Linked DNA regions of Homo sapiens: regions 1, 3, 4, 5 and 6 are each linked to region 2. The links come from fine-mapping of genetic effects on gene expression. A gene starts in region 2. Each other region holds a variant in brackets. All regions are shown on one strand. Distances are between the middles of the regions.

The links. PIP is the estimated chance that this variant, and not a neighbour inherited with it, causes the effect.
Region 1: its variant is fine-mapped to the expression of TUBGCP6 in whole blood (INTERVAL, PIP above 0.99).
Region 3: its variant is fine-mapped to the expression of TUBGCP6 in whole blood (INTERVAL, PIP 0.99).
Region 4: its variant is fine-mapped to the expression of TUBGCP6 in gastroesophageal junction (GTEx, PIP above 0.99).
Region 5: its variant is fine-mapped to the expression of TUBGCP6 in whole blood (TOPMed, PIP above 0.99).
Region 6: its variant is fine-mapped to the expression of TUBGCP6 in anterior cingulate cortex (GTEx, PIP 0.96).

What each region holds. Positions count from the first base shown.
Region 1 is chr22:50,435,221-50,440,287 of GRCh38, reverse strand. It overlaps PPP6R2 (protein phosphatase 6 regulatory subunit 2), which reads right to left. Exons shown (of 24, transcript NM_001242898.2): 14 at 3,836-3,921; 15 at 3,220-3,300; 16 at 2,685-2,782; 17 at 2,388-2,445; 18 at 1,990-2,114; 19 at 1,526-1,689; 20 at 431-587; 21 at 239-327. Among named protein-coding and RNA genes, the nearest start is that of MIR12114, 30 kb to the right of the region's middle. The variant C/T (reference allele first, on the strand shown) is at 2,204.
Region 2 is chr22:50,242,340-50,247,406 of GRCh38, reverse strand. TUBGCP6 (tubulin gamma complex component 6) reads left to right here and starts at 2,384. Exons shown (of 25, transcript NM_020461.4): 1 at 2,384-3,688. The coding sequence starts at 2,948. It overlaps HDAC10 (histone deacetylase 10), which reads left to right. Exons shown (of 20, transcript NM_032019.6): 15 at 441-532; 16 at 672-728; 17 at 1,031-1,109; 18 at 1,315-1,497; 19 at 1,580-1,732; 20 at 1,877-2,224. The coding sequence ends at 1,900. RefSeq lists a silencer at 2,012-2,081 and enhancers at 2,552-2,601, 3,012-3,291, 2,865-3,795.
Region 3 is chr22:50,198,039-50,203,105 of GRCh38, reverse strand. It overlaps TRABD (TraB domain containing), which reads right to left. Exons shown (of 10, transcript NM_001320485.2): 9 at 4,920-5,031; 10 at 3,511-4,761. The coding sequence ends at 4,587. It overlaps SELENOO (selenoprotein O), which reads right to left and starts at 2,095. Exons shown (of 9, transcript NM_031454.2): 1 at 1,516-2,095. The coding sequence starts at 2,069. It overlaps TRABD-AS1 (TRABD antisense RNA 1), which reads left to right and starts at 2,323. Exons shown (of 2, transcript NR_186698.1): 1 at 2,323-3,030; 2 at 3,778-4,018. RefSeq lists an enhancer at 1,026-1,265 and silencers at 1,626-1,705, 1,836-2,775. The variant A/GA (reference allele first, on the strand shown) is at 2,175.
Region 4 is chr22:50,074,657-50,079,723 of GRCh38, reverse strand. It overlaps MLC1 (modulator of VRAC current 1), which reads left to right. Exons shown (of 12, transcript NM_015166.4): 6 at 2,222-2,323; 7 at 2,812-2,883. Among named protein-coding and RNA genes, the nearest start is that of MLC1, 8.2 kb to the left of the region's middle. The variant G/A (reference allele first, on the strand shown) is at 2,113.
Region 5 is chr22:50,217,221-50,222,287 of GRCh38, reverse strand. It overlaps SELENOO (selenoprotein O), which reads right to left. Exons shown (of 9, transcript NM_031454.2): 9 at 4,672-5,067. The coding sequence ends at 4,919. It overlaps TUBGCP6 (tubulin gamma complex component 6), which reads left to right. Exons shown (of 25, transcript NM_020461.4): 15 at 186-260; 16 at 414-2,037; 17 at 2,273-2,331; 18 at 2,497-2,644; 19 at 2,832-3,000; 20 at 3,079-3,220; 21 at 3,391-3,585; 22 at 3,668-3,800; 23 at 3,886-4,099; 24 at 4,171-4,370; 25 at 4,461-4,594. The coding sequence ends at 4,552. Among named protein-coding and RNA genes, the nearest start is that of SELENOO-AS1, 9.6 kb to the right of the region's middle. RefSeq lists an enhancer at 2,051-2,693. The variant T/C (reference allele first, on the strand shown) is at 2,147.
Region 6 is chr22:49,946,781-49,951,847 of GRCh38, reverse strand. No RefSeq gene overlaps it. Among named protein-coding and RNA genes, the nearest start is that of PIM3, 11 kb to the left of the region's middle. RefSeq lists enhancers at 334-919, 920-1,507, 4,440-5,027. The variant C/T (reference allele first, on the strand shown) is at 2,981.

The DNA of each region.
Region 1 (5,067 bases), 190 kb before region 2:
CCTACTCAGACCAGGCTCAGAGCCAGCCCAATGGCCTTGCTGCCTCCCCTCTGGGGGCCTCCCCATCTACACGTGGCTGCTCCAGTCCCATTGCTGTATCAAACCCCAATGTCACCAGAGACGTAGCAGCATGCGAGGCCCCGGCCACCTCCTCCCACTGCCCCCAAGGAGGGGGGCCAGCTGGCCTCAGGCCTTAAACTGGGCAAGGCTGGGTGCCGCCTGCACTGCTCCTACTCACAGGCTTTCTCAGGGCCTTGGCTCCGGCTGCCCTCAGCATGGCTGCATTCTGTGTCCACCGGAGAGCTGCACCTGGGCCCTGACTCGGAGCTGCATACAAGGACGAGGACAGGATCAGTCCTGGGGGACAGGTGCCTCCTGGCCCTGACAGGCACTTCCTGGCACAGCCCCCTCCTGCCAGCGCATTTGTTACCAGCAGAAAGGTTGGAAGTCAGTGAACTTGGCCCAGCCTTTCTCCTCTGGAGCTGAGGTGCCAGCTGCCCACACACTGGAACCCACGTCCCTCACCACTCCTGGGGCTGTGGGCGTTGAGTTCGCTGGCTCATCAAACACTGCCGTCCACATGGCGCCTGCTGGGGGAGAGACACAGTGGTCAGGCGTGGGCAGGCCTGGGGTGCTGCAGGCAAAGGGGAGGCAGCGCCCCTGCCCCGGGAGCCCCTCAGAGGTTGACAGGAAGATGGGGCTGCTCCAGGAGGGAGGCCCAGGCAGTGCCCGTCAGCCCCTCAAGGAGCAACAGGGGACAGCTCGAGGGTCCTGACAAGCTGCCGACACCCATGGGGCGTGTGACCTGGGGCTCAGTCAGGTGCCTGAGGGCCCCCAGGCCTCCAGCAGGACTGACACTGACAGTGTGGAGGTGATGCCACTGCCCTGTCCTACCCAGGACCGCAACCCACAGAGCCGGCAGCTCACCGAGCACCACTGGCCCCTTCCTGGCCTCGAGGATGGGGTGTCTTCCTCCTATCTGGGATGTTCCTGCTTCCCCAGGGTGTCACCCTTGCTCTGTCAGCGAAGAGCTCAGCCCCTCCTAACAGAGATCTCTGCCCCCGCCACCAAAGTCCTGAGTGCCTCAGTGCTGCCCCCAGGGCAGGGTAAGGAGAGGGGTCTCATCAGCCATGCGGCCTGTGAGGTGGACTGGCTCCTGCCATAGATGTCGGCCATGAAGGTGGCGGCCGGCCTGTGCTGCTGTGCTGGGGAGGGCGTCAGGCCTGTGCCTGACTGTGTGGGGGCTGGACGGACGATGGAGACTAGGTGGACACCACCCACCAGCCTTGGCAACGTGGCTGAGTGACCACAACTGCAAGGCAGGGGCAGGAGGCCACCTTGCGCTGGGCACAGCGCAGCACAGACCCCTACTCAGGACGGCTGGGAAATAGCTGGGGATTCAGGCTCCGGGCCACAGTGAGCCCCAAATGCCTCAGCTCCAAATGAAGCCTCCACAACACCCAGGCCGGGGTACCATGTCCTGTCCCCGATACCCACACTCCCAGCCCCTGGCGCCCAGCACCACCTTCTGAGTCACCCTCCACAGGGGGCGCTTCCTTCTTCCCGGGGGCCGGTGGGGCACCTGCCCCAGGTGCATCTCTGTGTGCTTCCAAGCTCGCCTTCCCATCCTGGCCTCCACGCTCTGGGCCATTCTTTGAGCAACTCTCTGAAGCATGGGGGGCTCCAAACCTGGGGGAGATTCAGAGTCAGATGTCTGGTGGCCCAGGACGGACGCCTAACATGGAGGGTCAGTGGCGGCCCCAGGCTCGGGGCTGAGGGTGAGCACAGATCGTCTCGAGAGAGGAGCACGAGACGCTCCAGGCCTCAGCTCTGGGCTCCTTAGGGTCACCCGCTGCATTGGGCCCCAGAGCTGGCAGGACAGGTGTGGCTGCTCTGCAAGCCAGCTAACGAACCACAGGGCGTCTGACAGGTGTTCTGGGGGCTGAACCTCCTCGGCAGAGGCTTTGTGGGGATGGGCAGGCCCCGCACCTGGGTCTGGCCATCACCCGGGCAGCACAGCGAGTGTCACTGTCCTCCCAGATGTCCTCGTCCTCATCATCATCAAAGGGCTGGATGCGGTCACTGCAGCAGGCCTCAAACAGAGCTGCGCTGGGCTGCAGAGTAAAACGCCAAGGTGAGTTTCCAGAGGGTCTGGGGGAGACAGGAGCCGCTCTCCCCATAGAGCTCCCAGAGGGGCTTAGTT[C/T]GGGATGTGGGAGCCCCGGGCTGGAGGGGAGGACGGGGAGGGGCAAGGAAAGCGACTGTTCCGAGCTCCACAGAGGGGCCTCTCCCAGCCCCACCGCACAGGCCCATGACAGACCGAGCCATGGGCATGGCCTGAGCTGCCTGGGAAAAGGGTGGCGGCACCCCACACAGCCCGGCTTGCTCACACTGTCCTCGTCAGCGTCGATGTTGAAGTTGATCTCTGCGATCCTGTCAAACGGGGCACTGCAAGAGCAAGGGGGATGGCTTCAGCGTTCCTCCAGGCCCACTGCTCATCTGGGGCCTCAGTGCTCCTCCCCCGGTGCTCATCGGGGGCCTCAGCACCCTCACACAACTGGGAACACCTGCTGTCTCCCGGGGACATCAGACGGCACTCCCGGCAAGACCTCAGGGAGCTGCCTCCACGGGAGCTCAGCAGCAGGGAGAGCCGCGCCTCGTGCAGAGTGCGCTCCAAGTAGACTCACTTGATGTTGTCGTCCTGGTCGGCAAACTCCTCATCATTGAAGCCAAACTGATCCACGAAGTTGGCTGTCATCTGCTGGATCTGGTAGTCAGAGAAGGCCTGGGAGGGAGGGAGGGAGGGAGGGACGGACAGACACCGGTCATGGAGGAGGCATCAGGCCTGGAGGCTGCTCTTTGGGAACCACAATCTCTCTAGTTGTTCGGGAGCTTCTCCTCCAGCACAAGTGGGCAGTAAACTCTGTTCAGGGCTCACGATTCTACCAAAACTCAGGCTGCGCGCTCGCTGCGGTCACATCTGAGATACGCCCCATATTCTCTGACTTTCGAGTCCATCTGCCGTGTCCTCAGTGCTCTCATCAAGGTGGAGTGACTTTGGGGTTCTCCCTTCAGACCCACCCCGCCCCATACGTGCTCGGAGACGAGCCCCCGCTCCCCTTTGCTAGTGAGATGCCATCAGACTCGTCTGGAGGACCAAGCGCAGCGCACACAGGTGCCGGGAAGGGCCCGGCAGGGTGCAGGTGCCGGCCACGCCCTCACCTGCTGAAGGGACAGCTCGTTAGGGAAAGCACCCTCAATGTCCTCGTCCTCACTTGAGGAGTGAAGGTGGTGAGTGCTCACCTAAAACACAGGCCAGATGGGGTGGGCGTGTGAGCCAGCCCAGCGCCCCAGACCCCACCCAGCCCAGCGCCCAGGACCATGCCCAGCCCAGGGCTCCCAGACCCCACCCAGCACATCACTCATCAGATCTCTGGGCCCAGGAGGCCGTGCTGTGTAAGGAGGTGCCTAGGTGAGGCCAAGGCCCCGTGACAGCCCGACCTCCATGTGCAGGGGGCAGGTTGTGGGTCTCAGGCAAAAGGAGCCCTCTGCCAACAAGCTACAGCTCCTGGAGTGGGAGGAAAGGGACCTGAGGCCAACACCGGCTCTGCACAGAGGTCCTCAGAGACCCAGCCCTGGGTGTGGCACAGGACGGGGTCTCTGTTACGGACATCAGCCCGGAGGACACACTATGCAGGGGCACCGCATAGTCAAGAGGAGCAGGCAGGCGTGCGGCCCTTGTGCCTCCCTTGGCCTCTGCCTCAGGGCAAAGGCAGGAGCGTCTGACGGCGTCCCAGCACCGTGCGTGCACCGAGGGGGCAGCCCCGAGCCTCCTCACCAGGTCCACAGTGTTCCTGCGGTTCGTCTCCGTCAGCGTCTCCTCCACGAAGCTCTCCCAGCGGCCACGGCAGTCCGCAGGGAGCCCTGCAAGGGAAGTGCTGCCTGGTGAGCCCTGGGAGACCCCGTGCAGATGGTGCAGGGCACCCGGGGGCTCCGGCAGGTGCATCCTGGGTCCGGGAGGATGGGGCGCTGCTACTGTGGTCAGCCCGTCTGAGGGCCTGAAGCAGGGGCTTTGCCGGATGAGAAAGAGGCAGCATAGCCGCGTGTCCGGAGGGGCCTGGGGCCACAGTGAGATTGAGGTGCAGCACCTGTGGGCAGGGTGGTGGGCACTTCTGCCCCTACCGAAACCCCAGTGGGCATCTGAGTTCCAAGTCTGTTGGGTGGAAGCCCATTCTGAGGAACTCCCAGAAACGCAGAAGCCGTGGAACAGAATCTGAGAAAGCAGCCAGCTTCCTTCCCCCCACCTCACAGGCCCAAACTCAGCAGCAGCCTACAGGCCTGGGCGCGTGTCCTGCCTGTTTTTCCGGGGAGGTCAGAGTCCTGGAAGGATTCACAATCTGGAGATCGTATGGAATGATCCAACAGCTTCCTGCTTGCCCCTCGCCTCCTTAAACTGCCCCTGCCCTGGGGAGCTGTCCCTGGCCTCCACCTCCACCCATCTACTTTGCCCTCCAGGATGTGGGGAAGCTCCTCCTGCCCTGCTTTTATTATTTGTGATGGCAGCCGGCAGGCCTGACCTCGCCAGGGGCTAATGGAGCCCAACCCAGGAGTCCCCTCACTATGGTCCTGGGGTGCGGGGAGGACTATCCAGAGCTTCCTCACCTTACACGGGTATAGGGAGGAGAGGCCACAGCTGGGCCCGCCTCTGCCACACATGTGCTGTGCCTGCGCCCACCTAACCCACTGCGTTCTTAAGAAACAGGCTGCAACCTGCTCCCCTGAGACTTGTGCTACGAAATCTCACACCTGAGTGAGAATGAGACTCTCCAATCACCTGAGTGCAGAGCACACAGCCAGGACAGCCTAGCCAGGCAGGGCTCCCTGAGCTGCAAGGAGCCCGGTGGCGCTAACGGCTTCTGAGTGCCAGCTCCGGAGTCACCAACTACCCCGGGAGGGACTGTCTCTTGTGCCACACGCTGACGCCTGGCAGGGTCTCCACAGAAGTCCGCCCAATAGAACTGACACATGAGACCCAGGCCCCCACGAGGAGAGATGTGATGTGTGAAGTGA
Region 2 (5,067 bases):
AATAACGGCAGTTTGGGGGGCCAAGGTGGGAGAAACGCTTGAGCCCAGGAGTTCAAGACCAGCCTAGAGAACATATGGAGACCCTGTCTTCACAAAAAATAAAAAAGTCAGCCAAGCGTGGTGGTGTGTGCCTGTAGTTACTTAGGAGGCTGAGGCAGGACGATCGCTTAAGCCCAGGAGTTTGAGGCTGTGGTGAGCTACAATTGCGCCACTGCACGCCAGCCTGGCTACAGAACGAGACCCTGCCTCTCTAAAAAAAAAAAAAAAAATTATAGACGTAAGCATCTTATTTACAGAAATGGAGTGATTGACCTTAGTGTAAGAAGATGTGTGGCTGACAGTAGCCGCAGAGACACACCGAATGAAGGGAACTGTGGATCTGTTTACCTGGCTTGGGAGTTGGTTGGTGCCTCATTCTCCACTGTTTATTCATCCCACAGGTGAACAGTGGTATAGCAGCCACTCCAGCCTCTGCTGCAGCAGCCACCCTGGATGTGGCTGTTCGGAGAGGCCTGTCCCACGGAGCCCAGAGGTAAGCCTCACTTGGCCATCCTGAGCCTCTGACGGCAGGACCTGTGGGCACCCCTATCCTGGCTGGCCAAGCACAGAGAGTTCTGGGAATGGACTCTGGACAACATGAACACCTGTCCTGAGGCCAGCTCTTCTTCCAGGCTGCTGTGCGTGGCCCTGGGACAGCTGGACCGGCCTCCAGACCTCGCCCATGACGGGTAGGACTCTCAGGTCTTGCATATGTCCAGCCATGCATGTGGACGGGCATGTGATGGACGTGTGCCTGGGCCCCAGGGTGACGGGTGGGTGGGGCACTGTGTGGTACTGAATGGAGCCTTCCTCAGCTGGGGTGTGGGAGAAGGGCTGCTGGAGGCAATGCCAGGTGGGTCTCCAGCACAGAGGCTCAGCAGTCACAGCACCCCTGCCCATGGCCCCGTGAATGCTCTTCCACCTCTGCCTCTGCGGTTTGGGCTCAGGAGGGTGAGCAGGGCCTTACACTTATGCACCTGTGTCCTGGAAGGAGGAGTCTGTGGCTGAACATCAGGGGCAAGGAGGCGGCTGCCCTATCCATGTTCCATGTCTCCACGCCACTGCCAGTGGTGAGTGACCATGCCACGCGGCAAGGCAGGTGCTGGGGAGCCCATGGATGTGTACAGCTGCTGTTTGCTGGCATTGTCATGATAGCAGGCCTCTGGTCCTTCCTGTCTCCCTGCTCCTACTCCAGGGGCCCTGAGATTGGGAGGTTGGGAGGCCAGAGCCAGCAGGTGTCCGTAGATGAGGAGCTGGGCTCTGCTGTCCCCACAGATGACCGGTGGTTTCCTGAGCTGCATCTTGGGCTTGGTGCTGCCCCTGGCCTATGGCTTCCAGCCTGACCTGGTGCTGGTGGCGCTGGGGCCTGGCCATGGCCTGCAGGGCCCCCACGCTGCACTCCTGGCTGCAATGCTTCGGGGGCTGGCAGGGGGCCGAGTCCTGGCCCTCCTGGAGGAGGTAAGCTGGGCAGGGTGGAGGTGCTGCGGGGTGGGACGAGGGAAAGGACCAGTGACTGCTTCCGTCTTCGCCCCTGGTCCAGAACTCCACACCCCAGCTAGCAGGGATCCTGGCCCGGGTGCTGAATGGAGAGGCACCTCCTAGCCTAGGCCCTTCCTCTGTGGCCTCCCCAGAGGACGTCCAGGCCCTGATGTACCTGAGAGGGCAGCTGGAGCCTCAGTGGAAGATGTTGCAGGTGAGGCTGACTGCGGAGGCATGGCCCTGCCCTGGGGCCTGGCTCTGCCGCACAGATCGGTGGGGAGGGCAGGGCAGGGGAGTGCCCTGAACCAGCTCCAGCGCCGGAGGCCAACTGCGCGCCTCTTCTCGGCTCCTCCTGTAGTGCCATCCTCACCTGGTGGCTTGAAATCGGCCAAGGTGGGAGCATTTACACCGCAGAAATGACACCGCACGCCAGCGCCCCGCGGCCGCGATCCGGACCCCAAGCCCACGGCTCCCTCGACTCTGGGGCACGGAACCCCGCCCACTCCCAATCCCCGCGCCCCGCCCTCTCCCACCCGTGCTTCCCCCGCTCCACCCCTCACCTCACCTCGCCCCCGCCCCACCCATCGCGCCCCGGCCCGTCCCATCGAGGCCCATGCAACCCACGCTCGGTCCCGTTCCGGCCCCTGCGCCCCGCTGCGCTTCGCTCCCCGCCCTTGCGCCGTTAGTAAACATCGCTCAAACGAAACGCTGGCTCTGCCTCCTTTACTGAGCACGCTCGGCCTCGGTCTCTCACCCGCGGTGCCGGACTCAGGCCGGAAGTATGCCGCGGCCCAGGCCTCACCAACTTCACGCGCTGCCGGCGTTCCCGTGACGTATTTCCGGCGCGCCCGCCCTAGTGCTCTTCACACTGGCGCGGCTGTGACGCGACGGAGGCGGCGAGAGCGGCAGCCGTGGGCACTTTCCACGGGTGAGGCCTGGAGAACGGGTGGACGTGCAGGCCAGAACCCGGGACCCACCCGGCTGAGCCCCCAGACTCTCCGCTGCCCACGACCCTCGGAGTGGCACCCTCTCCTGGCCGTCTCCTCTCGTGGGTCCCGAAGAACGGGTGCAAAGCCGAGTTCGTCCGCTGTACTGCGCGGGCGCGCGTTTCGTTCTTCGGTTTTGCCACGGTTCTGTGACTCCCTAAAGGTTGAGGGCTACTGAATTAGAAGAAACGCCGAGCTGGCTTCTGGTGGGCTGCCGGGCGCCGGGCAGCGTGCTTGGACTGGGGAGGGCAGGGCGTGTTTACTCTGAGTAGAGCAACCGCAAGACCTCCTTTAAAAAATACCAGTTCTGAGCTTCGGCATTGGAGAGGCCGCCTGTCATTCAGCCTCTTCGGACCCTCTCTCACTCCCTGTCTTCCGGAGCGTGAGTGAAGCCCGGGTGAGGTGTTTTCCCACACGCCGGGGGCCCGGAGCTGAGAAGGGGCATGGCCAGCATCACGCAGCTGTTCGACGACCTGTGTGAGGCCCTCCTGCCGGCTGCCAAGACTCACCTGGGCCAGCGCAGTGTGAACCGGAAGAGGGCAAAGCGGAGCCTCAAGAAGGTGGCCTACAATGCTCTTTTCACAAATCTTTTTCAAGATGAGACTCAACAGCTGCAGCCTGACATGTCAAAACTACCAGCGAGAAACAAGATCCTCATGTTGTCCTTTGACTTGAGAGTGGGTGGCCTGGGCCCCAAGGCCGACCGTTTGGAGGAGCTTGTGGAGGAGCTGGAAGCAGCCCCTTGCTGTCCGCTTTTGGAGGTGGGGTCTGTTTTGGACCTCCTGGTTCAGCTGGCAGGGAGTGGTCCCCCTCAAGTTCTGCCGAGAAAACGAGACTACTTCCTTAACAACAAGCATGTGGGGAGAAACGTTCCGTACAGCGGCTATGATTGCGACGACCTGAGTGTGTTTGAGATGGACGTTCAGTCTCTGATCTCCAGAGAAGAGTGTTTGTGTCACAGCATGATCCAGGAAACACTTCAGGTTATGGAGGCTGCTCCAGGCACTGGCCTGCCCACCGTCGGGCTCTTCTCATTTGGTGACCCTTGTGGTGACAGGTTCGAGAGAGACACCCGGGTCTCGCTCTTCGGGGCCCTTGTGCACAGCCGCACTTATGACATGGACGTCCGACTGGGCCTGCCCCCCGTGCCAGACAATGCGGACCTCTCTGGGCTGGCTATTAAGGTAGAATGTTTAGTTTTTCCTCTTTCATCTCTCTCGGGGTTTGGAAAATGCTTCCTGTGACCTTTCTTCTTCTTCTTCTTCTTCTTTTTTTTTTTTTTTTTGAGACAGTGTCTCACTCTGTCACCCAGGCTGGAGTGCAGTGGCGCGATCTTGGCTCACCTTAACCTCCACTTTCTGGGCTCAAGCAATTCTCGTACCTCAGCCTCCCGAGTAGCTGAAATTACAGGCACCTGCCACCACGCCCGGCTTAATTTTTTTTTTTTTTTGAGATGGAGTCTTGCTCTGTTGCCCAGGCTGGAGTGCCGTGGCGCGATCTCGGCTCACTGTAACCGCCGCCTCCCGGGGTCAAGTGATTCTCCTACCTCAGCCTCCCGAGTAGCTGTAGCTGGGATTTAGGTGCATGCCACCACGCCCAGCTAAGTTTTGTATTTTTAGTAGAGATGGGGTTTCACCATGCTGGCTAGGCTGGTCTTGAACTCCTGACCTCTTGATCCGCCTGCCTCGGCCTCCCAAAGTGCTGGGATTACAGGCGTGAGCCACCATGCCCAACTAATTTTTGTATTTTTAGTAGAGGCGGGGTTTCACCATGTTGGCCAGGCTGGTCTCCAACTCCTGACCTCAAATGATCCACCCGTCTCGGCCTCCCAAAGTGCTGGGATTACAGGCATGAGCCACTGTGCCCGGCCCGGTGACCTTCCTTTTATCATGGTAAAAGGGGGGATAGTCTGGTGGCTGCATTGTCCTGAGGTGGGGCTGCTGGAGTGGGCTTACTGGCGGCCACCCTCCTCTGCAGCGACAGTGCTGCCCACCTGCCGGCCAAAGCAACATGCTGCTTTTCATCTTTACCTAATGGGGTATATCGTTAAGCCACCTCTGCCTTCTAGAGCTGCCGTTTAAATTGAAGTTAATTAAAACAAAATAAAATACTCAGTTCCTCAGCCCCACAAGCCACATTTCAAGTGCTCAGTAGCCACGTGTGGCAAAAGTGTTCATGTTCTGTAATTCGTGCAATTGGATATGTTTTTGCTGTCTGTCGCCTGAGGCTTTACCATGGTACGCTGTAGCTCCTCATTTGAGTTTTGTATTTTATTGCTTTATCAGTGTTGCCAAAAGGATACATTGTTACTAGTCGTTCTATTCTTATGCGATAGCTAGATGATTTAGAAACATACATAATGCTACAGCAAATGTCTTGGTGTACAGCAGTTTTGTTTTTTGTTTTTGAGACAAGTCTTGCTCTGTCGCCCAGGCTGGAGTGCAGTGGTGTGGTCTCGGCTCACTGCAACCTCCATCTCCTGGGTTCAAGCGATTCTCCTGCCTCAGCCTCCTAAGTATCTGGGACTACAGGTGTGCGTCACCACACACAGCTAATTTTTGTA
Region 3 (5,067 bases), 44 kb after region 2:
CACTGCACCTGACCCCATGTGAATTTTAGAATGGGTTTTTCTATTTTTGCAAAAACTGTCATTGGTATTTTGATAAGGACTATACTGAATCTCTTCAAAGAGTACCGTTGTCTTTCTAATATTAAGTTATCCAACCCACGAACAAGGGATGTTTCCATTTATTTATGTTTTCTTTATTTTCTTCATGTTTTTCAGTTTTCACTGTTCAAGTCTCTTCCTTCTCACAGCCACTTCAGACGTTAGCCTCAATCTTGGAGAACTGGTGAGGCCAGGGACCCCAGGACACGTGTGGGGATGTCAGGCAGGGCCTGAGTAAAGGTCAAAGGACTCCTTAATTTTTAGGAGAAAATATATTCTAGCAGCTCTCAGGTCTGAAAGCAGTGAGTTAATACTCAAGTCTTCAAACATAAAAAGTGTCTTCCAGCGACAGATTACTCTCATAAAAAAAATTGTCTTTTTAACTTTAAAATATCACCAAAAATGAAAACATAAAGTTTAAGATGATCGCCAAAAAGAAAAACAAAAATTAAAAAAAAAAAATGCTCACAGGACAAGCAGGCCCCAGGCTGAGCAGCATTTCCACCACGTTCCAAGGGTCAGAAACGCTCCAGTGGGCGGCCGGTGCTGTCAACTCTAAGCAGGTCGCTGGGGGTGGGGAGGGAGAGCCAGAGCCAGGTTGCCCTCAGACACAGAACAGAACGGATTTGGAGACGGGGGAGTGAGGAAGACCCTCAGTCTGAGGAGCTTGCTTGGGAGATGGAGCCCCGGGGAAGGGATGCTGAGGGACCGAGGGGCATTTCAGGTGCTGGAGGGGGAGGTGATGAGAGCACAGGGAGGGGCCGGATGAGATGCGGGTTTAGCATTTCTCTGAACATAAAATGTACACTTTCCTAGTCATTCACAAAAGCAGTAAAGAATATGGAGTAAGTACATTGTTTAGTAGAAAAGAGCAGAACAGACCCAAGCGCTGTCTATACACAGGAGGCAGGTGGCGCGTGCACGGCTCCCCGGTGGGCCTGGCGGCATCTGGACCCAGATCCTGCCTTATTAGACCACCTGTGTGCCCCCCCACAGAAATCTAAACGATGCCCACCTCACTTCGGGGTTAAAAAGGGCTGCCCGCAGGGAAGTCAGGGCCAGGCCTCCGTGAAGTCAGTCGCAGAGCGAGGCTGCTGGACGAAGCGGCCCGCCCCACGAGCGATCGGAGGAAGGCTGGGGACCTGCGGGGTTAGGGTTAGGGTTAGCCTAACCTCTCATCCCGGCTCCCGCCCCTGGGTTTGGAGCCCCAGCGAACGTCGGTAAACATGAGCGGCGTCCCTGGTGGAGCTGACTCCAAGGTCCTCGGCGGGTTGATAAGCACAGGGCGCGGGCGGCTGCCAGCACCGCGCTCCCGCGGGTGCAGGGGAGGCCCCACTTGGCAGTAGCCGCCGGACGCCCCCAACACCGCGCCGGGCGGAGGGAAGGGGCGCCCCGGCGGGGAGGACCCACCCGCGCCCCTCGCCCGCCCCGGCCCACCTGGAGAAGGGCGTGGGCCCGGCGCCCTTGAGCTGCAGCTCCCAGCGCTCGCCGGTCGCCGTGCACACCTCGCCCAGGTACATGGCGGCGCCGTCGCCCAGCTGCCCGGCGAACTGGCCGAATTGGTGGCCGCAGTAGCAGTGCGCGGCGGGCTCGGCGCCCGGCAGGAGCGCGTTGCCGCTGAAGAACAGCGCGGCCTCGGCCTCGGCCTCGCGCGCGGGCGGCGCGCCCAGGCCCAGCAACGCCAGCGCGGGCTCTGACAGCGCCACGAGGCGCGGCTGCCGCAGCGGGGTGGGCTGCACGCGGGTGAAGCAGGCCCCGGGCACGGGCCGCGGCGCGGACGGGGCGCCCTCGGGACCGGGCGGCGGCGCCTCCACGGGCAGGGCGCGCAGGGCGCGGTTGTCGAAGCGCAGCCCCGCCAGCCAGCGAGGCGCGGGCTCCATGGCGGCGCCCGACAACGTAGAGCGGGGCGCCGGCGACGGGGAACAGCGACCGAGGGGCAAGAGTCGGGCAGCCGCGAGCGAAGCCCCGAGCGCTGCCCTGTATACGGCCATCCGCGGCCCCGCTCCCGCCGGAAGCCAGCCTGCCCCGCCCGGAAGCCCCGCCCCGCGCGTCCCGCAACCCAATCGCCAGTGGGCGAGAGTGGGGCGGGTGGGGGG[A/GA]GGGGTCGCGGTGTCTGGCCGGGCTCTAATTGGCTGCCTCGTCCGTCTATCCGCATCTCCCGGCCGGAGGGTCGGAGGCGTCCGGGGTGGCTGTCGGCGTCACGGGGCGCGCGCTGATGCGAACGGGGTGACAGATGGGAACGCCTCCGAGACCGCCAGCGACGACCCCGCTCGGGCAGCCCCGGATTTCCTCGGCTGCACCGGCGCCGGCAGCGGGGACCGAGGCCCGCGTCCGTTCGGGTCGGGCCGGGGCTTAGCCCCGCGCCCCACGGGCGGCCGGGACCCCACCCGGACCCCGCCGCGGTTCTGGGCCGCCGGAGCCTCGCGCCGCCTCTCGGGGACCTTGTCCCCTGGCCTCCGGCCTCTCGGGCCCCTCGCCTGCCGTCTAGGAGGGAAGGGGCCTTGGATCTGTGCCCCGCCCATGGAACAGCGCCCGGGCTCGGAGAGGCCCCGCGAGGCCGCAGGCGCAGACCCTCCCGGAGGGCTGGGCGGGCACCGGGGTCTTCGGCTGGCTTGAGGGACCCGACCCCTGGGGGAGGAATTTGGGGTCTGTGTGTCCGAATGAACGCGGGGGTTCAGATGAGTCTGTGGTGCCCCCGCTTTCCATCTCCTCCGGCCCCGGCCCCAGAGGACTGTCTGAGAGGCCGGTGGCCGCGGATCCTGGACGCGCCTCCCTCCTGCCTGTGGTTTCCCTTTATTCCGGCAGCGGCGCGAGCCCACCCTTCACATACAGGAGCTACATCCAGAAGCTTCTCCTGGGGCCACAGCGTGGGCTTCCGAGACTCTGCGTGACCCCAGCTCTGCCCCTTTGGGGCTGCGGGTGAAGCCCTCAGGACCCTCCGCGTGCGTTGGGCAGGTAACTGGATGAGGGATAATGTGGTGAGGTCCCCGTGCCCAACCCTCCTCTGCAGCCCACAGCAACCGTTCCCTCTTCAGCAGCCCCCTCCCCCCGGCCGCTCTGGGCGCCCGTTCCCAGCATCCTCCTTGGCAGGTGTTACCCCTCCCCATTCCCCAGGCCCTGGGCCCTCCTGATCTGTCTCCTCGACCCCCTGGGGCCCCAGTCTGGCTCAGTCTGGTCCACACTCTGGAATCTGGTGGGACTGGGTATGGAGGGTCTTGAGTGTCAGCAGGCCACCTGCGTCCCACCTGGTGGGTGAGAAGGGTCCCACAGGTCAGCATGGAGGGACCCGACTCTGTCTCTTCTGCTGGAAACCAGGCAGGTTCCTTCCCCCAGGGCCCCGGCAGGGCCACGAGTACCCGCTGCACTGGAGCACGGGGGAAGAGGCAGGGATCCTTCATTACCTGAACCCCATGTTCACACGTCACAAAACAGGAGTTTCCAAAATTAGAATTTATTTCAGTTTCTAAGGAATGAATCCCCGAGTGTGGCAGGAAGGACACAGCCGGCTCCTGACGCACACCTGATTTGATTCAACACCGAGTCGGCACAGACACAACCAGAGATGGCCTGGGTCCAGGCTGGGGCTGCACGGGCTGTGTCCTGGACAGCCAGGAGGGAGGCCCCGCACACAGACGGCCGCCGGGCAGGGGGCCTGAGCGGGACAGGCCTGGCCACAGCCCATGTCCTTGGCCTTCCACATAGGTGCACACATTGTCTGCCCAGAGAGGGCCAAGATGCCCCAGGCACCCCTTCGCTCCGGGGGCTCAGGACACAGGCTCCCAGCTGAGGCCACGCCTGGACCCAGAGCTGATGTTTGGCTGCACGCGAGCCCACTCGGGACAGACCCAAGAACACGAATTCTCTCCCTTTGGATTTAAGGCTGGTGTTTTTTGACATTTACTTCAGTTTTTCTCTCTGAAATTAAAATTACCTGAGTAAAAGATTTTAAGACATTAAAAAAGCCAAAAACACAGAATCCCTGCAGGCAGACGGTGCCAGGGAGGTGGCGGCCAGGGCCAGGATGCCAGGGGCACGGTGGGGTCGGCTGGAGCTCCAGGGCTGGGCCTTTCCCAGTCTCGCCTGCCCTGGAGCCCCCAGGAGCCGCCCCTGGGCCGACGCTCCTGTGGCCGGAGCACAGGAAGGCACAGTGAGGTAGGGACAGTGGCCATTGTCCCCCGCCTGCCACCAGGGCTGAGAGGGCAGCGCACGCCTCGGCCCCTCCTATAAGCCCCTGCCCCCTCGGAGCTGGGTGTCTTGTCCAGAAGCTGGGGAACGGCCCCTGCAGTGTGGGAGGGGAGGGGCTGCCGGGAGGCCTGAGCTCAGACAGTTAAATAATCCTTTATTTGGGTGGGCTGGGGGAGGGGTGACTGGCCCAGGAGGGCAGGCGAGGCCGGGCCCAGACCCCCATGGGGGGTGGCAGGGGCCTCGGGCGGGCTAGGATGCACCTGGCACCCAGAAGTGCCGCGGGGGCACTGGCTCCTCAGGGGCCCGAGCGGGCGGGGAGCAGTCTCCTACTTGTGCCGGGCCTCGGTCACCCTCTGCAGGCAGTACTGCGCGGCGGGCAGCGACAGGACCAGGCTCGCGGTGCGGCGGCCCATCCAGTACAGGCTGTAGCCCAGCAGGCCGAAGAAGGCGGCCTTCACGGCCAACCGAGACACTCTGCCGGAGACGGACGGCGGGGGCACGCTGTGGGAGGGAGGGGGCGCTGGGCCTGGCTGGGGGTGGGCTCCCCATACCCCAGCCCCCATGCCTGGGTCACTGCCGCATGTGGTTGGCCTCCAGGGCGCTCAGCCTCCACCTGGGGGCTTGTGGGGTGGGGCTTGCAGGGAGGGGCGGGCACTCACGTCATGATCTCCTGGATGTTGAGGTCGGTGCTCCAGTTCTTCTCGATGCCAGGCACGTGGCCCATGCCCACGACGCCCACGACCACGGAGGGGACGCACTTCCTGGGCTCGGCTGTGGGGAAGGACAAGGGGTCAGTACCTGCTCGGG
Region 4 (5,067 bases), 170 kb after region 2:
AGATTTATTGGTAAACAATGTCTTTTCCAACAGTCCTTAAAAATTAACAGTGACATAATACTATGTTTCATCCAATCTGTGTAAGACAGTTGTTCAATGCACCTCTAAACAAAAATGTGAAATTGTAGGGGGCAGAGGTTGTGGGAGCCGAGATGGCGCCACTGCACTCCAGCCTGGAAGACAGAGCAAGACTCCGTCTCAAAAAAAAAAAAAAAAAAAAAAAGACAAAAATCCCAAAGGAAACCAGGACCTCATCCGAGATACTGCAAGGAGGGCCTCCTGCTTTGTGTGACATGTGGAATGCACTTGATGATTGGGGAAAGCTGGAGGAGGCTTGAGTATGTCCTGGCCACTCTCGTTGGGCAGGAAAAATGAGCAGACACAGGAGGACCCAGTGGGAACACCCACACTGCCTTTTTGTTTTGTTTTGTTTTGTTTTTGAGAAGGAATCTCGCTCTGTCGCCCAGGCTGGAGTGTAGTGGCGCCATCTCGGCTCACTGCAACCTCTACCTCCCGGGTTCAAGCAATTCTCCTGCCTCAGCCTCTGGAGTAGCTGGGATTACAGGCGTGTGCCACCACACTCGGCTAATTTTTGTATTTTTAGTACAGACAAGGTTTCACCATGTTGGCCAGGCTGGCCTTGTACTCCTGACCTCAGGTGATCCATCCACCTCGGCCTCCCATAGTGCTGGGATTACAGGTATGAGCCACCGCGCCCGGCCTGTGACGCTTCTTTATTAAGACGGAGAGCAGATGGGGTGTGGTCCCTGGGTCAGTGGCTTGTATCTGAACTGCTCAGAGGCAAGTTACTCACTGTAGCTGTCGGCTGGCCCTGGGAGGAGCTGTCTCTTCAGGATCAGGAAGGAGCCAGAGGTCAAAGCACCAGAAATACAGAAAATAAAAGACAAGGTTAATGTCACACTTTTCTGAATTTTAGAGTTCTCCTTATGCTTTTGTCTTTTTGATCTGTCATTTTTTTTTTTTTTTGAGACAGTCTCGCTCTGTCGCCCAGACTGGAGTGCAGTGGCTCCATCTCGGCTCACGGCAACCTCCGCCTCTCGGGTTCAAGCAATTCTCCTGTCTCAGCCTCCCGAGTAGCTGGGATTACAGGCGTGCGCCACCGTACCCAGCTGATTTTTGTATTTTTAGTAGACAAGGGGTTTCACCATGTTGGTCAGGCTGGTCTGGAACTCCTGACCTCAGGTGATCCAACCGCCTCGGTCCCCCAAAGTGCTGGGATCACAGGCGTGAGCCGCCTCCCTCTGCCTGATCTGTCAGTTTCTAAGAAAAGTGTTTCAAGTCCTTCCCCACCTCTACTGATATATCTACATCTTCCTGTGGCTCTGTTATGACATCATATATTTCGAGGCTCTGTTTTTAGTTGAATGTGGTTCTGCACTCTTTCTTTTTTAAATGTATTTTAAAAATTGTCAGGCCGGGCGCGGTGGCTCACGCCTGTAATCTCAGCACTTTGGGAGGCCGAGGTGGGCGGAACACCTGAGGTCAGGAGTTCGAGACCAGCCTGACCAACATGGAGAAACCCCTCTCTACTAAAAATACAAAATTAGCCGGGCGTGCTGGTAGGTGCCTGTAACCCCAGCTTACTCGGGAGGCTGAGGCAGGACAATCATTTGAACCCAGGAGGCAGAGGTTGCGGTGAGCCGAGATTGCGCCATTTGCTCTCCAGCCTGGGCAACAAGAGCGAACCTCCGTCTCAAAAAAAAAAAAAAAATTGTCAGACAGCTACACTGACTTTTTAAAATGTATGCTTCTATGAATATTAACACACATATAAATTCATGTCACTGCCAATACGGTCAGGGCCTGCAGTCGTTTCATTACCCTCCAAAAAACCTTATGTTCTCAGTGCTTGACAATCATGCATGAAGCTACTCTAAACATTCCGTGAAGGCTTTTGTGGGAACAAGGAGCGTTCAGAATGGGGTCGGTAGACCAGAGCCCAAGGCCAAATCCAGCCCTGGCCTGTGTTTGTACAGCCTTTGCACTAAGAATGGTTTTAAAAACTAAAAGACCCCAAAGGCCCATGTGAGGCAGGAGAGTGTGCAGCCCACAGTGCCTCACAGCTGGCCCTGGATGGGAAAAGTGGGGACC[G/A]TGGCTGAGAGTCCTGCGCAGCCTGCCCGTGAGGTGGTCCGGTGGACGCTGAAGCGCGGTGGCGTGAGAAAGGCGGGCCCGGTGCTGAAGCGTGTGTGCCCCTTGGCAGATCAACTTCAACCTCATCCTGCTGCTCCTGCTGGAGCTGCTCATGGCGGCCACGGTGATCATCGCTGCACGGTCCAGCGAGGAGGACTGCAAGAAAAAGAAGGTGGGTGCAGCTTCTGACCCCGCAGGGCAGGGGGTGCAGAGGCATCACCCCAGGGTGAGCGAGGTGGGTCTCAGCGTCACCCTCGGAGGGCCGATCTGGGCTGCTCCAGGGCATTCCCATGAGACCCCTCTCTCCTGGGTCTCAGAAACCCCGGCCAGGAGGGGCTCTGGAGCTGGGTGAGGGGTTGGCGGCCGCTGGCTACAGGGAGGTGAAGACAGATGCTGTACCCTCCCCTCCCCCTAAGCCTGACTCAGTCCAGTGCTCGTCCCCAGGGGATCACCAGGAGACACCACATCTGCTAATTTTCATATGCAAGGACAATGTGTGTGAACATTTCCTCAAGCCCAAAGATCCACGGGCGCCTCCAAGGCGGTCTCGCATCTACACGGCAGGCTGACCTGACCCACTGCCCACGGCGGCCGGATGCCAGCGGCAGTGCTGAGTCCCTGTGCCCGTGCACCCGGGGTGACAGTTCTGTTTCTTCGTAGGGCTCCATGTCTGACAGCGCCAACATTCTGGACGAAGTGCCATTTCCTGCTCGGGTCCTGAAATCTTACTCAGTAAGAAAACTTCCCTTCTTTCTCTTTTCTCTCATACTCTGTCGGGGGTGACTGAGGCTGGATTAAACGTCACGTTTCGATTCCGAGTTGGCGAAGAGTTGGCTGTCTACACCGCATGGCGGCGTGCGCCTCATCTGTGGAGACTCTAGTCTGTTATTGGTATCATTGGTAATAACCTTCCTTATCGCGAAAGGTGCTGCTGGTGTCCTGTAATTTTTAGGGGGAGTTTGTTACTGCCGTAGGTGAGTTGACACTGTTGTCCCCGAGGAATTTTTTTTTTTTTTTTGAGACGGAGTCTCACTCCATCAGCCAGGCTGGGGTGCAGTGGTGCTATCTCAGCTCACCGCCACCTCTGCCTCCCAGGTTCAAGTAATTCTCCTGCCTCAGCCTCCTGAGGAGCTGGGACTACAGGCACATGCCACCACGCCCGGCTAATTATTTTATTTTTAGTAGAGGCAGGGTTTCGGCATGTTGGCCAGGCTGGTCTCGAACTCCTGACCTCAAGTGATCCACCCACCCAGGCCTTCCAAAGTGCTGGGATTACAGGTGTGAGCCACCGCACCTGGCCTCTTTCTCCTTCTTACTTTCAACTTTTCTTGCCTTGTACTTTGGTATAATTGTTATAAGCAGCACGTAACTGTATTTTGTTCTTTATCTTGTCATTCTCTCTCCCTAGCTTTTTGAATGTAGCCCATTTCCTCTGAGAGTTATTACTGATAAATTTCTACTTATTTTTACCATCTTTTGAGTTTTCCATTTTCCCTGATTTTGCCTTTTTCCCTCCTTCCCTGCCTTCTTTTGAATTGGCAGAGGCTCCGTCCTTCCTTTTCCCTCTAATTTTGGATGGGAAATTTTTCAGTATTCTTTTGGGGGTTGCCCTTCATATTCTAATACGCTCCTTGATAAACAGACCATGCGGGGTCTGTCCCCCTTCCCTCCGCCTTGGCCTTGTTGTCTAGCTTGTGACATTTAGTGACATTTTGCCTTTTTACTCCAACAATGGGACAGCCTCCTGTGTGCTTGACTGTGTCTGTGTGTGTTTCCCAGTGCCTTCACTTCCCCTTATTTAGCATTTCAGTCCTCTCTTAGGTTCCATTTCCGTTCTGCTTCTTTTTTTTTTTTCCTTTTTTTTTGAGATGGAGTCCTGCTGTTGCCCAGGCTAGAGTGCAGTGGTGTGATCTTGGTTCACTGCAACCTCTGCCTCCTGAGTTGAAGCGATTCTCCCGCCTCAGCCTCCCGAGTAGCTGGGATTACAGGTGCCCGCCACCACGCCCAGCTAATTTTTGTTATTTTTAGTAGAGACGGGGTTTACCATGTTGGCCAGGCTGTACTCAAACTCCTGACCTCACGATCCGTCTGCCTCGGCCTCCCAAAGTGCTAGGATTACAGGCATGAGCCGCCGTGCCTGGCTGGGAATTCAGCTTTATTTGTGCATCTGGAGTTTTGTGCCTTCTGGACGCAAGGCCTGGCTGCCCAGGTCCCTTCCGGCCCCCAAGCCCTTGCTGGCCCACTCCTTATGCCTGGCTTTCCTGCTGGCCACAGCTCTGTGTTTGCGACTCACAGAGATCCTTCACGGGAGCAGGTTTTCGGGCGTGTGTTTCTTCCCCAGCCCTCCCTGAGTCTGGCGGTGCTGGTTGCGGCCCCTCCCTGAGTCTGGCGGTGCTGGTTGCGGCCCCTCCCTGAGTCTGGCGGTGCTGGTTGCGGCCCCTCCCTGAGTCTGGCGGTGCTGGTTGCGGCCCTGATGGTGCCGGGCAGATGAGTCCACAACCAGGGCTTAGGCCAGCAGGGTTCTTGGCTTTGTCCAGGAAAGAATTCAAGGGCGAGCTGGAGGTGACAGACAGCAGCTTTGTTTGCAGTGGCAGTATAGCAGGGCTCTCCAACCGGCAGGTGCCTCGAGCAGCAGCTCAGAGACAGCTCTGCCTCCTATTTATACCCACTTTTAAGTATATGCTAATTAAGGGGCAGATTATGCAGAAATTTCTAGAAAAGGGGTGCTAACGTCCAGGTGGTTGGATCATTGCCACGGAAAGGGGTGGTGACGTCCAGTGTTGCCGTGGCAATGGCAAACCCACATGGCACGGGTGGGTGTGTCCTATGGGAAGCTACTTCTGCCCCAGGCCTGTTTTCCCGAGTCCCTTCGATGGGGTCCAGGGTCTGAGCACCGCCGCCTGCCACACTGTGAGA
Region 5 (5,067 bases), 25 kb after region 2:
AGGTGGTGAGGAGCTCGTGGTTTTGGAGTACTTTTTGCAGGCCCAGCGTCCCACTGGAGCCCAGCACAAGCCTTGTCTGGTTCAGTGCACATGGCTGCCATGGGCGGTAGGGGCTGTGGCTTTGTGTGGGGTAGGGCTGTGCTTGACTCCGGCTTGGCCAGTCACCCCTCTGGCTTGAATTTCAGGAGATGCTGAAAGCAGTGTCTGAGGCTCACCAGCCCCAGGAGCCGCCAGACGTCCTCTTGAGCGTGCACCCCCAGGTAAGCGGCAGAGTGGAACCCAGGGTGCCCTATGGTTTTCCCATAGCCCTCGGCACCTGGTGTTGGTCATGGCTGCAGAGCTGAACTTGGGGGACAGTTCGAGGGCTGGGGGGTCCTGAGACCAGACTGGGTCTGATGTCACCTGTGTTTCAGGTCACGTCTCCGGGCCCTGAGCACCCAGAGGGAGGCCAAGGCTGTGATTCTGGGTCTGCAGAGCAACACTCGCCTGCCTGGGATGGCTGGAACAGGCCAGGCCTGCTGACCCCACAGCCCCTTAAGCCTCTAGCAGTGGGGGCTGGTGGCAGGGGGCTGCAGCAGGCGGAGGGGGCCAGACCCTTCTCTGACAGCCTCAGCATTGGAGACTTCCTACCTGTGGGCCCAGGGGCTGAGCCGTCCGTGCAGACTGGCATGGTCCCTCTCCTGGAGGTGGCGCTGCAGACCATTAACTTGGACCTGCCCCCCTCAGCTCCTGGGGAGGCACCCGCAGCAGCCAGCACTCAGCCCTCCAGGCCACAGGAGTACGACTTTAGTACTGTCCTGAGGCCAGCTGTGGCCACCTCACCTGCACCAGGGCCCCTGCAGGCTGCAGAGTGCAGCTTGGGCAGCTCAGGGCTACAGCTGTGGGAGGACAGTTGTGGGAAGATGGATGCCTGTGGCTCCGCCTCGCGGGAGACTCTGCTCCCCTCACACCCACCCAGGCGTGCTGCTCTGGAGGAGGGGAGCAGCCAGCCCACAGAGCGGCTCTTTGGGCAGGTGTCAGGGGGTGGTCTTCCCACAGGGGACTACGCTTCTGAAATAGCTCCCACCCGGCCACGGTGGAACACCCACGGGCACGTGTCTGACGCCAGCATCAGGGTCGGGGAGAATGTGTCAGATGTGGCTCCCACCCAGCCACGGTGGAACACCCACGGACACGTATCCAATGCCAGCATCAGCTTAGGGGAGTCTGTGTCAGATGTGGCTCCCACTCGGCCACGGTGGAACATCCATGGACATGTGTCCAACGCCAGCATCAGGGTCGGGGAGAATGTGTCAGATGTGGCTCCCACCAGGCCACGGTGGAATACCCACGGGCACGTGTCCAACGCCAGCATCAGGGTTGGGGAGAACGTGTCGGACGTGGCTCCCACCCGGCCACGGTGGAACACCCATGGACACGTGTCCGATGCCAGCATCAGCTTGGGGGAGTCTGTGTCAGACATGGCTCCCGCCCGGCCACGGTGGAACACCCATGGACACGTGTCTGATGCCAGCATCAGCTTGGGGGAGTCTGTGTCAGACATGGCTCCCACCCGGCCACGGTGGAACACCCACGGACATGTGTCTGACACCAGCATCAGGGTTGGGGAGAACGTATCGGACGTGGCTCCCATCCGGTCACGGTGCAACACCCATGGACACGTGTCCGACGCCAGCATCAGCTTGGGGGAGCCTGTGTCGGATGTGGTTTCCACCCGGCCACGGTGGAACACCCATGTACCCATCCCTCCGCCCCACATGGTGCTGGGGGCTCTCTCACCAGAAGCTGAGCCCAACACACCCAGGCCCCAACAGAGCCCCCCTGGCCACACGTCCCAGTCAGCGCTCAGCCTGGGAGCACAGAGCACTGTGCTGGACTGTGGGCCACGGCTGCCTGTAGAAGTGGGGCCATCTCTGTCCTCCCCCAGCTCGGGCTGCGGGGAGGGGAGCATCAGCGTGGGGGAGAACGTGTCAGACGTGGCTCCCACCCAACCATGGTGGCCCAACACCCCGGGAGACAGTGTCTCTGAAGAACTAGGTCAGAGTAGGGTGGCTGGTGGTCAGGAGTGGGACTGTGGGACGCACAGAGCCTGGGAGGTAGGCGGGCAGTGGGGTTGGTGGCATGTGAAGTTCCCCTCAGGCCTCCT[T/C]GTCAGCCAGGACCTGGGCTGCTGTGGGGGACATGGGAGGGGCTGCTTGAGCCAGGGCCGGCTCGGCTCTGTACCCGCCACAGGCACTCGGCCCTGATGCCCTCGTGTCCACTTGTGTCCACACAGGCCCTGGGAGGAGCGGGGACACTGAGGACCTCTCTCCAAATTGGCCTCTCAACTCACAGGTTAGGTGGATGCAGCCTGGGGGTCCCACAGCAGGCAGGGAGGGCTCTGTCCCTCTAGGTTGTCACGCGGGTGGGTCCCACATGCGATTTTCCTTTTTTTGGCACAAGCTGGTTGTGGGGACAGCGTGCAGTGGGGAGGTGGTTCTGAGGCTGGTGTTTTGTTAGGAAGACACAGCTGCCCAGAGCAGCCCAGGCCGTGGTGAGGAGGCGGAGGCATCGGCGGCGGAGGCTCAGGGTGGGGAGCAGGCCTACCTGGCAGGCCTGGCAGGGCAGTACCACTTGGAGCGGTACCCGGACAGTTACGAGTCCATGTGTGAGTGCAGCAGTTGCTGTTGGCAGGGAGCCCTGGGCTGGCTGGTTCCCAGCACGTGCTCCACCTCCTGTGGGTTGGGGCGGAGCCCTGGGCTAGCCAGTTCCCAGCACGTGCTCCATCTCCTGTGGATGGGGGCGGAGCCCTGGGCTGGCCGGTTCCCAGCACGTGCGTGCTCCATCTCCCGCAGCCGAGCCGCCCATTGCTCATCTTTTGCGCCCCGTGCTTCCCCGGGCCTTCGCCTTCCCCGTGGACCCCCAGGTCCAGTCTGCCGCTGATGAGACTGCTGTGCAGCTGAGCGAGTTGCTGACGCTGCCCGTGCTCATGAAGCGCTCCATCACGGCACCGCTGGCCGCCCAGTGAGTGCCCCTGCCCCTGCGCCAGTCTGCCCACCCAGCCCGTCCTGGCCCGCCCTGACTCCAGCTCCCTCCTGCCAGCATCTCCTTGGTGAACAAGGCCGCTGTCGACTACTTCTTCGTGGAGCTGCACCTGGAGGCGCACTATGAGGCACTGCGGCACTTCCTGCTGATGGAGGACGGCGAGTTCGCCCAGTCCCTCAGCGACCTGCTCTTTGAGAAGGTGGCCTCCGGACACGGGGTGGGGCCAGTGGTAGAGGGGAGGCCGTGGGAAAAGAGAGACTGGCTGCACGCCCACAGCCCCCTGCTGCTCTGGCACAGCCCCATGGGGTGCCGGCGAGTGCCAGGCATGTGCTTGGGACTCCTGGGGACGGTGGTCCCTTTTCTGCCTAGCTTGGAGCTGGGCAAACGCCCGGAGAGCTGCTCAACCCGCTGGTGCTGAACTCTGTGCTGAGCAAGGCCCTGCAGTGCAGCCTGCATGGGGACACCCCGCACGCCTCCAACCTCTCCCTCGCTCTCAAGTACCTGCCCGAGGTGTTTGCCCCCAACGCCCCGGATGTGCTGAGCTGCCTGGAGCTCAGGTACAAGGTCAGCAGCAGCCCTGGCCGCGGGGGATGGGACAGGGGCCTGCCTGCCTGTGGGATGCCTGCTGAGCCACGCCTCCTGGCAGGTGGACTGGCCTCTCAACATTGTCATCACCGAGGGCTGCGTGAGCAAGTACAGCGGCGTCTTCTCCTTCCTGCTGCAGCTGAAGCTCATGATGTGGGCGCTCAAGGACGTCTGCTTCCACCTCAAGCGCACAGGTGAGGCCCCGCTGGAGCCCGGCGCCCCGCACCCCTGGCTGGAGGCTGCGCTCACCTCTGCCCTCTGCCTTCTGCCCTCCGCCAGCCCTGCTGAGCCACATGGCCGGCTCTGTGCAGTTCCGTCAGCTGCAGCTGTTCAAGCACGAGATGCAGCATTTCGTGAAGGTCATCCAGGGCTACATCGCCAACCAGATCCTGCACGTCACCTGGTGCGAGTTCAGGGCCAGGTTGGCCACCGTGGGCGACCTGGAGGAGATCCAGCGTGCGCACGCAGAGTACCTGCACAAGGCCGTCTTCAGGTGAGGCCTGGGCAGCGGCTGCGTCCCTGTGGTCACGGCTCAGCCCACCCAGCAGCACTGCTTCCCCCCAGGGGCCTGCTCACGGAGAAGGCGGCGCCCGTCATGAACGTCATCCACAGCATCTTCAGCCTCGTGCTCAAGTTCCGCAGCCAGCTCATCTCCCAGGCCTGGGGGCCCCCTGGGGGCCCGCGGGGTGCAGAGCACCCCAACTTTGCACTCATGCAGCAGTCCTACAACACCTTCAAGTACTACTCCCACTTTCTCTTCAAAGGTGAGGCCCACCCTGGCTGGGAGGGCTGCGGGGGGGCCAGGGCGGGGCTCACACTGTGGGCAAAAGCCTGAGCTGCTCGCTGGTCCCCAGTGGTGACCAAGCTGGTGAACCGCGGCTACCAGCCCCACCTGGAGGACTTTCTGCTGCGCATCAACTTCAACAACTACTACCAGGACGCCTGAGGCTGCTCTGCGGGGGACGTGCACAATAAAGGTGTTCTCGGACCCTGTCTGCAGCTCTCTCTCCTGGGTGGGGGCTGAGGACAGGGCAGGGTGGGGGAACAATGACCACAGAGACAGACTCGAGGGAGTTGCTGGTTTATTTAGGAGCCTGGGTCCAGCCCCCAGGGACCAGGCTGCACTGCTGAGCCGGCCTCAGACAGAGACGGGTCAGGTCCTGACTGGATGTCTCTGCCATCATGGAAAGACGGGTGTGCATGGGCCAGGGCAGAATCCCCCAGTGTATAGGGCAGCCTGGCATCATCTTGGCCACTCAGCAGCACATGGGGGCCTCGGGAGACTCCAGGGGTGTGGAGCGTGCCGAGGCCGTTACGAAGATCATGTCACGCACAGTTCTGCTGCCCAGAGCGGGGGCTTACTGCTGTAGGAGCGCTGCCTGCCGTCCGCCCCGTCGGCTTCCGTGGCCTCGGCGTCTGTGGCGGCCCCCGCCTCGCAGTGGTAAGGGGTCTCCAGTAGTT
Region 6 (5,067 bases), 300 kb after region 2:
CCTTCCAACTGGCCCTGCCCCAGGGTTTCAGGGCTCTGGAGGGCACTGGTCAGCTACCCTTGGGCTGAGGTGGGTGGGCACAGCCAGGGGTGGGAGGTATGGAGTTGAGTCTTAGCCCACTCAGGGCCAGGCCCCAGGCCAAATTTGGCCTCCTGATGGGGCCTGGTGACCTCCCTGCCTCTCTCGGTCTCCACTCGATGCCCAGATACCCGTCTCTGCATCCTGGCCTGTGAAGACAGGTGGAGGGGCTCTGCCTGGGCCTTGGCCCTGCCCTCCCCTGGGGCCCAGCCCTGAAATCTTGGCTGCTGGTACCTGCTCCCCGCCCTGGCTGGGCAGGTGGGCCTCGCGCAGGTGGCCCCCGCCCAACCTCCTGCCACAGGGCACTGCTGTGACGCACGCAGCTCCTCCTGGCCGCGGTCCACAGCACACATGACAAGTAGGCAGACAGACGCAGGCTCACACGCAGCACCCGGTCAGGCTGGTTTTACCTGGCCGGCCCTGGGCCTGAGGAGGGGCCCACGCAGCCAGGCCTGCCGGGAAGCTGTCCTCAGCCCCCCAGCCTCCCCGCCCCCGTCCTCAGTCAGCCAGCCTCCCAGCTCCCTTCCCCCATCCTCAGCCCTCCAGATCTCCGCCCCTGGCCTCAGCCTCCCAGACTCCACGCCCCCATCCTCAGTCCCCCACTAGCCTTTCCACCCCCTTCCTCTGCACCACCTTAGCCTCCCAACACCCTTCCTCAGCCCCCACCAGCCTCCCCGCCCCTGTCCCGGTAACCTCCAGCCTCGGTTCCTCATTTGCGAGCCAAACGCTGCCGTCCAGTCTAAGGCCCCTGTGAGGCTGGCACGAGAAGATGTCATAGCTGGGGTGGGGAGTGGGAGGAGGGTGGAGCCCGGTGGGCAGAGACCCCCAAATGTGGCTGAGTGGGCGAATGGACTGTGGAAAGGCAGCCGCCCTCTGCCTGGCCTCACCAGGGGCCCTTCTGGCTATGAGGGGCCCCCAGCTGTGCCCGTCCTGCGCTGCCCTGGACTCCTGAGCCCTCGGCCCACAGGGCCTGGGAGAAGCTGCTGCAAACGCTCCGTGTTGCCGTAGAGTAGGCCTGGCAGGGCGGCTGCCCCTGGACCCCCGGCAGCTCCAGCAGGCGGCTGGGCCCGGTCCTTCTAGTTACTTGCTTAGCTGGGTAGAGAATTCCCTCATCAGCCAGTGTACCCTTGACAACACAGCCCAGCCCAGGCCCCACACCCCCCTGCGCCAACAAACACAGCCCCACTCAGGCCCCCCACCCCCCCACCCCCCTATAACACAGCCCTGCCCAGGCACCACAGCCCCAAACACAGCCCGGCCCAGGCCCCACCCCTACTACCCCCAACAACACAGCCTGGCCCAGGCCCCACCCCCTGCACCGGCTCCCCCATAACACAGCCTGGCCCAGGCCCCATGCCCGCCTCCCCCCGCTATACCCCCCTGTCCCCCACATCCCCCCACCCCTCTGTGCTTCCCCGTGGTTGATGGTGACCCCAATCCCCCTGTGCTACTGCAGGGCGGGAGGGGTGTGCCTGACATGAGGCCCTGCAGTGGCTGTGCCGGGCTTGTCTGGCGGACCTGAGGGCCTGGGTCCCCAGGACGGTGCAGGAGGTCCAGCTCCCTTGGTGTCAGAGCCTCCCCTGAGCCCCTCTAGAGTGGAAAGTCCAACAGCCAGGGCCCTCGGGCAGGTGCGGCTCTCATGGCCTGTGCCCGCCACACCTGAGGCCTCACCTCTGGCCAGCGGGGGGACACTGCGAGACCCACACTGCAGAGGGTCCCAGCCCTGGGCCTGTGCTGCCCCCCAGCATGCTGGACCCGCCTGGGGAGTTTCTGACGGCCCACCCCCCTCTCCAGCCAAGGACTTCTCCCCAGGGCCCCTCCAGTGGGAAGCCTGTGTCCCTGCCGGTTGAGGGGCTCTGCTCCAGGGGCAGGGGCCACTGATCGGCCTTCTGTATAGTGGAGACCCGTGTATAGAGAGACCCGTGAGCGAGGCCCGGATGCGTGGAGCCCGGGCAGCAATGCCGGAAATCTGATCCTCTGCTCGGAGAACCTGGGTCCTGGTGGGTGGAGGGGTGTCAGGGTGGGAAGTGAGGAAACATGGAGGACTGGCTGCGGGGACGCAGGCAGGGGCGATGGTGGAGGAGCAGGGTGGGGGCACAGGCCAAGAGGGCTGGGTAGCAGGGTTGGCGGAGGGTGTCATGTGTGGGGGGCCGTGTGGACGGGGTTCGAGGGGCGTGGAGAGGCCCGGGGGTGGGGCAGCTGGGCACACAATGGGCCCTTGTCCTACAGGCCGCAGCTCCTGGGCGCCCTAAGCAAATACACGCCCTGTTCCCAGCTGCACACCGTGTCCTGGGACGCGGCCGTGGTGTGGGGGCCAGCCGGGAGGGTGGCTGCGAGGCCAGGGCACGCGCCCAGGGGTTCCAGTGCCCATGGGCCTCCATGTGGAGCTGTCCCTGCTGCAGCCTGGGTGTGGCACTCGTGCCCTGGCCACCCCCTTGGCAACCCCACCAAGTCCACCCAAGGAGCCCCGTCAGGGAGAGCGGCTTACTCTGCCCGGCCCTGCTGGCGACTCCTCTCCTGCCCAGCCACGCCCCAGGCCCAGGACAGCCTGCAGGACTCCAGGCCTCCACTCCCACCACCTGAGTGCCTGTCCTGCATCTGCCCCGCCCTTGTCCACAGGCGGGTGCAGCCCTAGACGGGCCTCAGCCCTGGGCTTTCTCAGTACATCTGGGTTGGGGCAGAGGCCAAGCGGGCAGGGCTTGGCTCTGGTCCCTGCCGAGGCCCTTCCTAGGTGCGGAGTCTCTCTGGGGCGCCAGTGGGAGTTGCAGGTGGGCCCTGCTAGGGCTCCTCACCCAGCCCTCTGGCCTGCCCCAGGCCTGAGGCCCTGAGAGGGTGGCGGGGGCCTGCCTTCCCCACCCTGAGGACAGCCCTGGCCAGGGCTGGGGGACAGCGGGGACAGGGA[C/T]GGCCCCTCCCCCAGGGGACCTGGGCAGGTGAGGAGAGGAGCCCTCTTGCTGGGCTGGTGGGATGCTCCGCCAGGCCATCGGGGGTGTGTCAGGGGCAGGGCTGGAGGGCGGGGGGTTTGCTGTGGGTTCCGGCACCACCAGCTGCTCCCCGCTCTCTGCACCTCTGCCCTGGCAGCAGCAGGAGCTGACTGCTCACCCTGAAGGAGTGCCTGAGACACCTTGCCACCTGGTAACAGCATACCCTCAGCATACAGGCTTGACAGGGTCCAGAGAACCCAGGGGAGACAGACACCAAGAAAGACGATGGCAAGAAAGTTCCTGGCCAGCAACACCCCCCACCACGCCAGGCAAACTCTTGCACATACCGTCAAGAGCCATGAGGGCCGGTCAGCCTCTCTGGCAGCTGATGCCGCTGAGCCCACCCTCTAGGGGACCACGGGAACCCCCAGAGGGCAGCTCTGCCCGCCCCAACCCAGACACCCTGAGAAAGCCGACGGCTGAGGCCCGCCCAGGGCTGCGGCTGCCAGTAGGCAGGGGCGGGGCAGATGCAGAACAGACACTCAGGTGGCGGGAGTGGAGGCCTGGGGTCCTGCAGGCTGCCCTGGGTCTGGGACCTGGCTGGGCAGGAGACAGTCACTGGGGGGCTCCGGGCACAGCGCAGCCTATCAGGGAAGCTCTGGGTGGCCAGGCCCCTGGGTGGCTCAGCTGCAGTGGGCCCAGGGCTGGCTTCCATCAGCAGGGCTGCTGTGGCCGAGCAGACAGCCTCATGAAGTGCCCGGTGCCCGGTCCTATAAGGTGGCCACTGAGGGCCCCTGCACCCCTCACCAGGGCGGGTTCCAGAGGGATGGGACAGTGTTCCCAGCTTTGCCTTGAGAGCCGTCTGGACCACCTGCCCCCGTGGCCCCCATGTGTGCCTGGAGCCTGCTTCACAGGCTGTGTGGGGACAGGACAGCAGGCATGGGGGCTGCCCCAGGGTCCACTGGCCCCGGAGGACAGGAGGGAGCCTGTGTCCCTCAGCCAGCATCCCAGAGCCCAGCCACCCTGTCTCCCGGCAGCACTTAGGCCCAGAGCCTGGCCACCCCCAGCATAGGGGGCTGCCCAACCTGGGCACAGGCTCACCCTGCCGGCCTGGATGCCTGGGTCTGCCCCAGCTGGGCTCTGGGTGGGCGGGGAGCAGGCTCACAGCTCTGCCTCCCGAGCCCACCCTGTAGGGGACGGCTCTCACAAGCTCAGCTCCAAGGGCTGGGGGGCCATAGAGGGGCTTTAGGAGGAATGGAGACTGGGCCTGTCGGTGGGCACAGGGCTGAGAGTCCCTCCCTCTTGCTTTGAGGCAGCCAAGGAGGGAAAGAGGCCTGGCCCCCCACCCCACTGGTGCACCAGAAGCCACGAGGGAATGAACCCACACTTGGCTCCCAGTGGACTTGGCGGTGGCCAGACTGGGCCTTGAGGCTGCAGCCCCCGCACTGGGCAGGGATCGGGTCCCAGGCAAGCCTGGACGTGGATCTGGGTCCTCTTTGGAGAGACATCCCTCAGTTGCCAATAGCTGTGGCCAGGAAACTGCAGGACTCCACGGACCTGGGCCCCACCCTGGACAGACACAGCTCTGGGGAGGCAAGGGGCCCCAGGAGGGGCATTTGCATGACAAATGGATTCCCGGGAAGCTGGTGCCTGTGTAATCTGTGGCTGTATGCGAGTGCGCATGTGTGTGTGCCTGCGGGTGTGCCGGACTGGCTCCGAAGGGCCACACAGCCAGCGGCAAATCCCAAGCTCAGGGCCACCCAATACCAAGGGTTCCTGCCTGCGGGGCTTGGGTGGACAGTGGCCTGTGGGTAAAGAAGCCTGCTGGTTATGGGGAGAACCTGGCTCTGGGCCACAAAGTCAGGGTCTGGGCCCCCTTTGGGCCTCAGAATATATTTTCATCTGTGAGACAGGCCGGTCACCTAGCCAGCGGCAAGTCTGATGGGAAGACCTCGTCCTGGCCCAGCTCAGGGCTCCGGGAAGGTCAGCATCCCAGGCCCAGAGACCTCAGTGCCAGCACCCCCAGGTCCCTATGCGCTGGTCCCTTCTAGTTCTGCCCTCCCCTGCG